Linked DNA regions of Homo sapiens: region 2 is linked to region 1. Evidence: fine-mapped expression QTL. A gene starts in region 1. The other region holds a variant in brackets. All regions are shown on one strand. Distances are from middle to middle.

Region 1 (5,378 bases):
TGATGAGAAAGGAGCTGGCTCTAATCAGTCAATCACAGATTGAGCAATCAGTCAATCACAGATTTAAAAAAAACTTAAGCTGTAGCATTTTCCTTTTAATTTTTTTTTTTTTTGAGACGGAGTCTCAGTTTGTTGCCTAGGCTAGAATGCAATGGTACAATCTCAGCTCACTGCAACCTCTACCTCCAGGGTTCAAGTGATTCTCCTGCCTCAGCCTCCTGAGTAGCTGGGATTACAGGTGTGTGCCACACTGCCTGGCTAATTTTTGTATTTTTAGTGGAGATAGGGTTTCACCATGTTGGCCAGGCTGCTCTTGAACTCCTGACCTCAAGTGATCCGCCCACCTTGGTTTCCCAAAGTGCTAGGATTACAGGCATAAGCCACCGTGCCCAGCCCCTTTTCATTCTTTAAGAAATAAATATTTAGAAAACTCCAGATAATTTCTTGAGTGTGGCACTGAGGAAAATAGGAACAAACAGAGAGAGAGAGAGAGAGAGAGAACAGGAACTCTGTGAGAGAAATCAAATTATCCCCTGGGTGGTGGAAGTGAGAACAAAAATCTTGACCTGAGAGTGTCATTACCCATTGGTGGAAATCATAGCCTCCATTTCTCTCTTACCTACCCTACTAAGTACTCCAACTAAGAGTGAATGCACCTGGCTCATAGTAGTTACCTTGTGCATATTAATTTTCTTCCTTTTCTTTTTCCACCAAAATTTGACTGATGATTGATTATGTCCAAGTCTTCTGATCCACCAAAATTCAAACCATGGAGTGACTTTTGTATAAAGGGATCTGCTGCCAGTTGCCTGTTTGGTTGTGGAATACTTAAATACTTCATGTGGGGCCATCGCTACTTGATAATGAGTGGGTCTTTCATGTCTGTGGAAAGTTCCACAAACCTTCACCTTAGGAATGAATGGGAGAATTCCAAGCATGAAGATAATGAGTCAAGAGCTTGGAGTTTGTAGCTAGATGAGCTTTGGTTGAATTTTATTTTATTTTATTTTTTTAAGACAGGGTATCGCTCTGTCCCCCAAGCTGGAATGCAGTGGCACAATCATGGCTCACTGCAGCCTCAAACTCCTGGGCTAAAGCGATCCTCCTGGCTCAGCCTCCCAAGTAGCTGGGACTACAGGCATACGTACGTCATCATGCCTGGCTAATTTTTTACATTTTTTTGTAGAGATGGGGTCTCAATATGTGGCCAGGGCTGGTCTCAAACTCCTACTCTCAAGGAATCCATACACCTCAGCCTCCTGGGCAGCTGAGACAGCAAGTGTGCGACCCTACACTCAGCTATGGGCTGAATTTTAGAGATAATGGTCGCTCTCTTTATAATTAGAAGCAACCTATGCAGACTGGGTAGCAAATAGAATGGGTTTAATTTTTTGCTGTCATGTGAGATCTGTAAGGGATTTTGGGGAATTTTAGGAAGCAATCCTCTAAGATCTCAAATTATCTCACAGCTAAATGTAGATTACAGTGACTGATGAGCTGCTTTCCCCCTTTATCTCAGATTCATTTCAATTCTCTTTAGTGGGAAGGGATACTATTCATTTGTTCTTTTCATTCAGAGTCCCTTCATGCCCTTAATTTCATAACCCTCTGAGAAGGGCTGACTTGTTAGTATCATTTCATTTCACAGCTGAGACAACTGAGCTCCAGAGAGATTTGTGGAGAGCGGAGCTCTTCTTCAGCTTTCATTTGTGAGTGCTTTTCCTGTGTCAGGCACAGAACAGGCACTGGGGATATAACGGTGTAAATATTTCAGGGAACTAAGTATCAGTTGGTTGAACGAGCTGAACTTTTGAGAAAGAAACTGCATTGAGTAATCAGCAGAGTTTCACAATGCCTGAGAGTCCAGTAATGTGAGAATCAGAATTAGCAATGTGAGAATAGAATGTATTGCACAAAGTCTCAGCAGGGAGTCTGTGTCTGGTTTTAGTTCCAGGTCCGGGTAGCACCTTTGCAATTGACCACTTCTTCCCTCTCTCCACCTATAAGGCTAATGGCCTGGGATCTTGTGATGTTTAGGGCTCAGATGGACACTGAGATGGCCTCTTTAATCAACCAACTTCCCAGGCCAATCTCTTCCCTTTCTTTTCTGATAGTTGCTGTGTTGGCCTCATAGCCTTACCTGGCATAGGAAAGATAAACAATCTCCTTGGTGTCAGGATTTCTGGTCTCTGGCTACGTTTCCTGCTTATGCAATAGTAGCTGGGAGAGGCCGAAAGAATTCTGGTGGGGCCACACCCACTGGTGAAAGAATAAATAGTGAGGTTTGGCATTGGCCATCAGAGTCACTCCTGCCTTCACCATGAAGTCCAGCGGCCTCTTCCCCTTCCTGGTGCTGCTTGCCCTGGGAACTCTGGCACCTTGGGCTGTGGAAGGCTCTGGAAAGTGTAAGTTGGAGTCACTCTGGTCTAATCTGGGCTGCAGGGTCAGAGGTGGGGTCTCCTTGTGGTGTGGGTGTGTCCCCTTCTGTAGGCTCTGATCCCTCAGCTTAGTTTCGGGAGACCTCCCTGAGGGTGGAATACATGTCTGGCTGAGCTCCAAGGTTTGTGTGACAGTTTGAGCTTCTGGAAATGCTTCCTCTATGCAGCCATGCTGTCAGCCCAGGTCCCACTCTCTCTCTCTCTCTCTCTCTCTCTCTCTCTCTCTCATACTCCGCCTTCTTCTTCACCTGTCTGCGACTCTCAAATCATTAGTTTCTGACTCTGCTTCCTTGTGTCTTTGCTTCTGCTATTTTGTCTCTGTGCTTCTGCCTTGGGCTTTAGCTCTCAACTTCTCTCACACTGGTTCTATTTATCTTTGTTTACCTCTCTCCATCTCCATCACTCCCAGCCTTCCTCTCTGCCTTTGTGTAGCCTTGTTTTGCTCTTGGGTGGGAGGTCTTGACTAGAAGCCTGCTGCCCTTTTCTTGGGTGTGAAACGTCCCCTGTCCATTTGTCTAATTTAATCAAGCCCATCAATACACCTGGAGATCAGGCAGGCATGACCCTTTGGGCTTTGTGGACAGCTACTGAGGTAAGGGTCTCTCCCCCTCAAAAGTGGTGCTTTGTTCAGGAGGCATGATGGGTCCTCAGTACCCAGCCTCCTCCTGACCTCTTGACTTTCTCTTCAAAAGCCTTCAAAGCTGGAGTCTGTCCTCCTAAGAAATCTGCCCAGTGCCTTAGATACAAGAAACCTGAGTGCCAGAGTGACTGGCAGTGTCCAGGGAAGAAGAGATGTTGTCCTGACACTTGTGGCATCAAATGCCTGGATCCTGTTGACACCCCAAACCCAAGTAAGCAGGTCGGGGAACTGGGTAGAGAGGAGTGAGCCTGGGGACACAGCATTAGAGGGATGGAACTGGGTGATGGGTCCTGCCAGGCCTCCTTGTCAATCCGTCAGTGAGTCACACTGCCCTAAGCAGGAAGGTAGCCAGCAGCTGGTGAAGCAGCGGGCATTTAGATAGCCAGGTAGTTGGAAGCCTCCCACCTAGTCAGCACTGGGTGGCTGGCCACCTGCATCAATGGGGGGCCTGAAGTTCTAGGAGAGCCAGGTGCTATGTTTGGGGGCCGCCTTAGGGAGAAGGTGGTGGTGATAGAGGTGGGGAGGGGATGATCCCCCCTGCTGAAGCTGGAGCAGGGGCTCACTCTAAAAAGTGGGGATGGGAGGGGTTGTATAAAGTACAAGGCCTCTGACCGGTAGCCTCACTCTCACCCAGCAAGGAGGAAGCCTGGGAAGTGCCCAGTGACTTATGGCCAATGTTTGATGCTTAACCCCCCCAATTTCTGTGAGATGGATGGCCAGTGCAAGCGTGACTTGAAGTGTTGCATGGGCATGTGTGGGAAATCCTGCGTTTCCCCTGTGAAAGGTAAGCAGGGGATGAGGGCACACTGAGCTCCCTCCAGCCCTCTCAGCCTCAACCCTCTGGAGGCCCAGGCATATGGGCAGGGGGACTCCTGAACCCTACTCCAAGCACAGCCTCTGTCTGACTCCCTTGTCCTTCAAGAGAACTGTTCTCCAGGTCTCAGGGCCAGGATTTCCATAGGATCGCCTGTGGCTTTGATTCTATTCTAGTGTCTCTGGGTGGGGGTCCTGGGCAAGTGTCTTTCTGAGTCTCAGTTTCTTTATCGGTAAAATGTACATAATGAGATTGAAAGTGCTCTGCAAAGCACTATGTGCACTAAGAATTTATTATTCAGGTTGTTTCCATCATGTTTTCTGAGGTGAAATCACAAAGGATCAGTGGAGTTTGAGGATTATCTAGTTCAATGCTTTGAGTTTAGAGTTTTACGGTGAAAATGAGACTTGTCTCCTGACACTAAGTCTCTCTCAACTATAGCGCTATCTTGCTATTTTCTCTATCTCAGAAGGATCCTTGGGCAGGAGGAAGGATGTGGATATGATTTGGCTGGTTTCTATGCTGAAGCTCTTATCTGATTTTCTCTCACAGCTTGATTCCTGCCATATGGAGGAGGCTCTGGAGTCCTGCTCTGTGTGGTCCAGGTCCTTTCCACCCTGAGACTTGGCTCCACCACTGATATCCTCCTTTGGGGAAAGGCTTGGCACACAGCAGGCTTTCAAGAAGTGCCAGTTGATCAATGAATAAATAAACGAGCCTATTTCTCTTTGCACATCCTGCTTCTGTGATTCGTTGGGGGTATGAGTGGGGTGGGAAGCTGTGAGGGAAGATCTAGATATGAGGCCTCCTTCCTATGAATACGTAGTGGGAGGAAGAGGCTTAGGGACTGGGGGAACTTGAATTTATATCATGAGTGTGAAAGTGCTGACTCTGTGATTTGGGACAAGTGATTTTATCTCCTAAATTTCAATGGGATTAGGGATGTACAATAACATGAAGAATCAGAAACCTCAATTTTACTGCCTCTGGCAGGATTGTCAACTGCAGGTGAAAAACTTTCCTGAGACGAGTTTATGCATAAGAGATCCTGCCAACAGTTAAGCTATTTTAATCCAGGGGGTTTTCATCTAAAGCCATACAGAACTGTTGGGGCAGATTCCTGTGTTCACCTCTGTATGTGTTACGATATATATATTGGTTTTCACACTTGATATGTTGTAGGTCTGTCTGTTGTCTAATCCAACCAACACTCTCTGGACACTCAGAAAAATTAAGATTATCTGCAACTCACAGCAAATGGAGTCCTCAAAAAGACTAACCATGTTACGTCAGTGCCCACTCTCGATTATTTTGAAAGACTTGGAATGCCCCAAACCTCACTGGACCATTCTGCTACATACTTTTCTCACCTCCAGCAAGGGTTATTCCAGACTGAGGAACCTAGGCTCGGGCAAATACGCTACTAGGAGTGTGCCCCAAGTAGCACCTTGCAGGGGGAGGAGACCTAGCGTTGAAATGAGATAAA
Region 2 (5,378 bases), 76 kb after region 1:
ACTGAGGTTAGTGAGAACAGGGAACTTATCCAGGTCTGTTAGGAGTAAGACTTAGGTCTGGGAGGTGACATAGTACTACCTGTTCCTGAATTCCAGAAGGGAATCGGAGGACAGAGGGTACCTGGAAGGGACTTGAAGCTGGATAAGTTAACGTGGGTAGAAAGACTCCCTTCTCTGCACAGTTACACAGCCTCCTAGGTGGGCAGGACCAAGCTTAGATGTCGCAAAAAAAAAAAAAAAGATACTTGGTCCAAAGTCACATCTCCCAAATTGGGCCCTCATCATGCTGTGAATTCCTTATTTCTATTAATTAATAATTTCCTTTGAAATTCTAAACAATTGGAAAACAATGAAAGACTCCAAGTATTAGGAGACAAATACTGAGGCATCAATTGGAATTATAGAAATTACATTTGAAACAATTTGATCAAGTCAGCTATTTTCAGACAATTGTACAACGAACCCATGTCTGGGAATCAGAGAACCAGTTCTTTTCTGGGTTTGACTTACTGAGTGAAATTAGGAAATGCATTTCTCCCTTCAGGGGTCTGTGCAATCGTGATAAAGTAAGGAGGGAAATGACATCTCCCCACAGTCATTTTGTTGTCCTTTATGCCATTCAAGATTTGTTAATCAGGTGTCAATATCTCTAGGGAGGCCATGCAGGGACAGCAAAGTGAAACATGTTGGGGCCTTGTATCTCTCTTTGAGGCCTTGGGTCTCCAAGCCCTTGTCTGGTTCCAGCACTCCTTGGACAAGGCTGTCTTCCCTAGTAACAGCACCTCTCATTGCTTGGGAAGTTAGGAGAACTGGTACCCCATATCTGCTTTTGAAATCTGGTTTGAGTCTAGAGGACACATCCAATGCATGGATCACACCCGGAATTATTGCAGAGGGAAGCAATGAAATGGAAGCAAGAAAAATAGCTTCTTTCAAACTCACCCAAAACATTACTCACGCTTTCTTTTTTCTTGATCTTCTTCAAGTGCATTAATAATTTTTCTCCAACTTCTTTCAGAGAGTAGTTTCCAGGAGATTTTTTTGGGGTAGTTGAAGACAATAGAAGGCAGAAGAGGAAGAATAAGTAACTTCCACAATCTCCACCCCAAGAGGTATAAAATAACACCACCACCAAGAAATTTCTAAACAAAACCACATCCTCAACATAACTTGAAAACAAAGAATGCCAAAAATACAAAATACCTGTCAGTGAAAAGGGAGCAAACAACAAATCCCAGGGCTGGAACTCACACTCTCCTGCTATTTCCAGCCCCACTGTAAAACTTAAAGCTTTGCAAAATCGACCAAAAAAACTGCTGAGGAAGGAATGACATAACCAAGATGGTGAAATAGAAGGCACCTGCTCATGTCCCACCAGAATGACAAGAATTCTACACTCATCCACAGTCCAAAGTCTCTCTGTGGGAGCCTCTGGATCTGGATTCAGGGGGAAGTTTGTGAAACTCTGGTGGAGCCCAAGACCTTGGAGGGTCATATTGAGAGTGCAGACCAACACCCACGTGGCTGATCCACTGAGCTGGCTCCAGAGTTCAATCCCAGAAATGGCCCATTCAGGGGTTTGGTTACATTTGGCCTTGAGCCTGCAATCAAACCCATCTGCTGTGGGGTCCAGAATGAATCACATACACTAGGGCTTTGGCAGAAAGGCCCTTCTGCTCACTGACTGGGCAGTGAATCTGAAAGTTGCCTTGTGATTCAGCTCCAGCCCCCATCAGCTGAGGTCCCAGCTCAGAGCTGCTCACACAACAACCCAGAGGGAGACTCACACATATCTCATAGCCTAAGATCCTAAGCCTCCCTGACAGGCTTGCCAACCTCTGTTGCACAGCAGGTCGAGATGGGATCCAGTCTCAGCTCTGACACTTCCTGCTGTAATTGAACTATCCTTTCGGTGCTGAGACTTGCAGGGAGATATGTACTTGTCTTGGCCAACAAGATGGACTCTCCAGCCTCCATCCCACAGCAGATCCCAAGGTGGGGCCATTCCCAGCTTCAGCTCCTTCTGCTGGAATCAGGAAACTATTACGTCTCCGCAGGAACTTGCTGGAAGATGTGCACTCCTTCTAAGCCAATGAGATCGGGATCTCCAGCCACTGTGCCACAGCAGATCCTGAGGGGCCCAGTATCAGCTCCACCCTCTCCTACTGCAGTCAGAGGACTATTCCAAATGGCAGGGTCTTCTTGGGAGATGTGTCCCTGCCTGACTGAACATGAAAGGAATTAC[A/G]GTCTCTGTTCCACAGCAAATCCTGGATGGAAGAAACCACTGGTCTCTGTGAGATCTTGAGTTGCTCAGCTACCTTGCTAGGCATGGACTGTCATCCTGGCCTGCTTCCTGAGCGAAAAGAAAGTGTCTTTTTGGAACCTTTCAATTTTTCTCTCTCAGTGGCTTAATCTTTGCCTGAATTCAGACCAGAGTTAGTTCTTTTGTTTTTGCAAATAGTGAACCTACCGTCTGAATCTTGTTTCTTAAAAAATTCAAGTTTTCTTCATTGTTTTGGAACTTGACATTGATCTTTACCTGAATTAGATATAATGAGGCCTGATTCTGGGTTTTCTTTTGTTTTCTATTGATTTCTCAACCTGACTATTCTTCTAATAAAAACAACATATTGATTATTGTTACTTTGCAAAACTTTTTTTTAAGTCTAGGAGGTTCCAGAGCCCTAGGGTTAATCTTCATTTGTAAACATCTACGCCTATTCACAAGAATTTATGCTTCCCCATAAACTTAAGTATGGTTTCAAGTTCCCTTAACCTCCATAACCACACCATATTAAAAATGGATTTTGGGTATAATACACCTTAGGGATAAATTAAATAAATATTAAATATTGAGTAAATAGTGACATCTTCACCACATAGTCTTCATGTATTGTGATATGTGCATATTCATGTATTGTGAGTATGTGTATATTCAAGCATTTTTATATGCCTCTGAAAAGTTACATAGATTTCTCTTCTAAAGCTCTGCCTCTCTCTTGTTTATTTATAGCAATGGTGTGATTTTGTTGATATTAATAATAGAAAATGCAGCATGTCTAACTGATTGTTGCTAGCATATAATAAAAATATCATTTACTATCACTTACTAACCTTGTGGCTTTTAATGGTTACTTAATCTCTCTTAGCTTCAATCTTTTTACAAAATTAGAAAATAAAATATGTATAATGGCCATCTGAAAGGGACTTATGAAAAATAAGTGACAATACATGTAATCTACTAGGTATAGGAAATAGAGTAAATATTAAAAAACAGAAACCATTATTTCCTCCAATGATGTATTTTGTATTTGTCAAGCCAGAAGTTTGGGTACTGCTGTCACCTGTACTCCAAGACACCCTAGTGTCAAAGCCCTACAGTTGTTCGGACTAGCCTCTGAACAATAGGGAAAAATCATGGCTCAGATGCTCGTGGATGGGGCAAAGTGGTGCAGGGATCCACATTGTCTCACCCCAAGCCTCTGCTCCCCATGTCATCTCAGAGCAAGAACCCAATACACAAAGAAGAGCTGTTTCATATCCCAGAGTGGCAGGATTAGACCTTCCTTTGCAGAATAATTATACCTTACCCCCTCAACTGAAATAGACCTCTGAGGCCTGGAAGGGGGACATACATTTGCCAGAGGTCACCCAATACGTGGGGAGGCAAAGCCAGTGCTGAGATCACCTGACTGTCAAGCCTGTGCTTATTCCCCTTCACCCAGGCTGCTCCCCTCCTGGGGGCTGTGGCCTTCTCTGAGAGTTTCCTTGTGCAATCGCAGTGGGACGAGTGGGTCAACAGGAGAGCCATGAGGTTGCTCATATTCCTGCCCCTTTCTCCACTACTCAAGTCTGCCCTGCCCCCAACATGTATGTCTCCAGAGAATGCTATTCACCCAAACCTCTGACACCATAGTATGAAGGACTTAGTGTATCTTGCCTCCTCATTCACATCTTAAAACAGAAATCTGGAAGAGAATATTGCTTAACCTAAAGGAATGCTACTTCATGGAGGAATCTCAGGCATAAACCAGTGAAATTCTAAAGAGCAGGAGTTTCGCAGCATCTGTAACATCATCCTTTCTATGTGGTGTTGAAAAGATATAGATTCCTGGGAAACATTAATGAGAAGGAAGTGGGGAGCTGTAGTTGCAGCCATAAGGGTTGGCTGGTCACACTGGTAAGGCCGACAGTAGCCAGGTCAGGACTGATGGTGGATTGGAAAAAAAAGACCTGCTTATGGTTTATGTAATGTTTATTTATTTTTTGTGTTTTGTGTTTTTCCTGGTCCTTGGCCAAAGGCAAGATTTCCATATTTCCATTTCCTGGTGAAAAGGAGCTGGCAGCACTGGGGCTGATTATTGGATTTGTAATATGAAGCCCTAGCAATGTGCCTCCTGTTTCCTCCCCCCGCCCTGCTCTCTTTCACCATGGGACCGTTTCCCCTCTTCACTGGAGAGAAGAAGTCCCAATTCTACATCCATTTCCCCAAAGCATCCAGGAGCCCAGAAGTCATAGGAACCAGAAACAAGTGGAGCAGAAGGAACTCTTTATTGGAAAGTGGATGAGAGAGGCAGCTCCAGCCGTGGGCATCCTGAATGGGAGGAAGAATGGACAGTGTGGGAAGGGGAAGGGCAGCAGGGACTTAGGACCAGATGGGGCCTGTAGCTCTGGGGACGGCACAGGTGCAGCAAGGACCGGCTCCCTCTGTGGAAGAGAAGAGTATCAGAGGTGAGAGTCAGCACATCAAAGCACTCAGAGGCAGTGAGGAAGACAGATCATCCTTCTAGGCACTCTGGTTATAGCCTCTCAGACCCCTCAGTCTCCCAGTCTTTCTGTCACCTCCCACAACCTCCCTCCCACCAACCTGGGATGCTTCCCCACCGCTCAGCCTTCTTTTGTGTCTTCAGGGGTCTCCTCGTTCTCCAGCTAGTGCTCACCTCACTGGGGAACGAAACAGGCCATCCCGCAAGAGCCTTCACAGCACTTCTTGATTCCTGGGCAGTCAGTATCTTTCAAGCAGCGGTTAGGGGGATTCAACATGGCGCACCGGATCAAGATAATGGGGCAGGAGCCAGGCTTAGTGGAGACTGGACCTTTGACTGGCTCTTGCGCTTTGACTTTATCTTGACCTTTAACTGAAACTTGTCCTTTAACGGGATCTTGTCCATTGAATGGAACACGGCCTTTGACAGTGTCTTGACCTTTAACAGGAACTGTTAAAAGAAGAAACGAGCCCACATTTATACCCAGTAAGCCTCTGCTTCAGCTGCCATGTCTTTCCTCTGGGTCTGGGTCCATCCACTGCTTACTGCAGCATCCTCAAACCATGGCCTGAGTAGGGAAGGTACACCTCTGGGAGCTACACTCTTGGAAGG

What was found. PIP is the estimated chance that this variant, and not a neighbour inherited with it, causes the effect.
Region 2: its variant is the best candidate, but not a certain one, in a credible set for the expression of SLPI in whole blood (TOPMed, PIP 0.50).

Annotation. Positions count from the first base shown.
Region 1 is chr20:45,251,486-45,256,863 of GRCh38, reverse strand. It overlaps SLPI (secretory leukocyte peptidase inhibitor), which reads left to right and starts at 2,300. Exons shown (of 4, transcript NM_003064.4): 1 at 2,300-2,405; 2 at 3,131-3,289; 3 at 3,713-3,862; 4 at 4,445-4,625. The coding sequence starts at 2,321. The coding sequence ends at 4,449. All of the region lies in intron 2 of LOC105372630 (a long non-coding RNA gene), which reads right to left.
Region 2 is chr20:45,175,699-45,181,076 of GRCh38, reverse strand. It overlaps PI3 (peptidase inhibitor 3), which reads right to left. Exons shown (of 3, transcript NM_002638.4): 2 at 4,941-5,216; 3 at 4,533-4,707. The coding sequence ends at 4,942. It overlaps LINC02597 (long intergenic non-protein coding RNA 2597), which reads right to left and starts at 1,090. Exons shown (of 4, transcript NR_187568.1): 1 at 943-1,090. The variant A/G (reference allele first, on the strand shown) is at 2,246.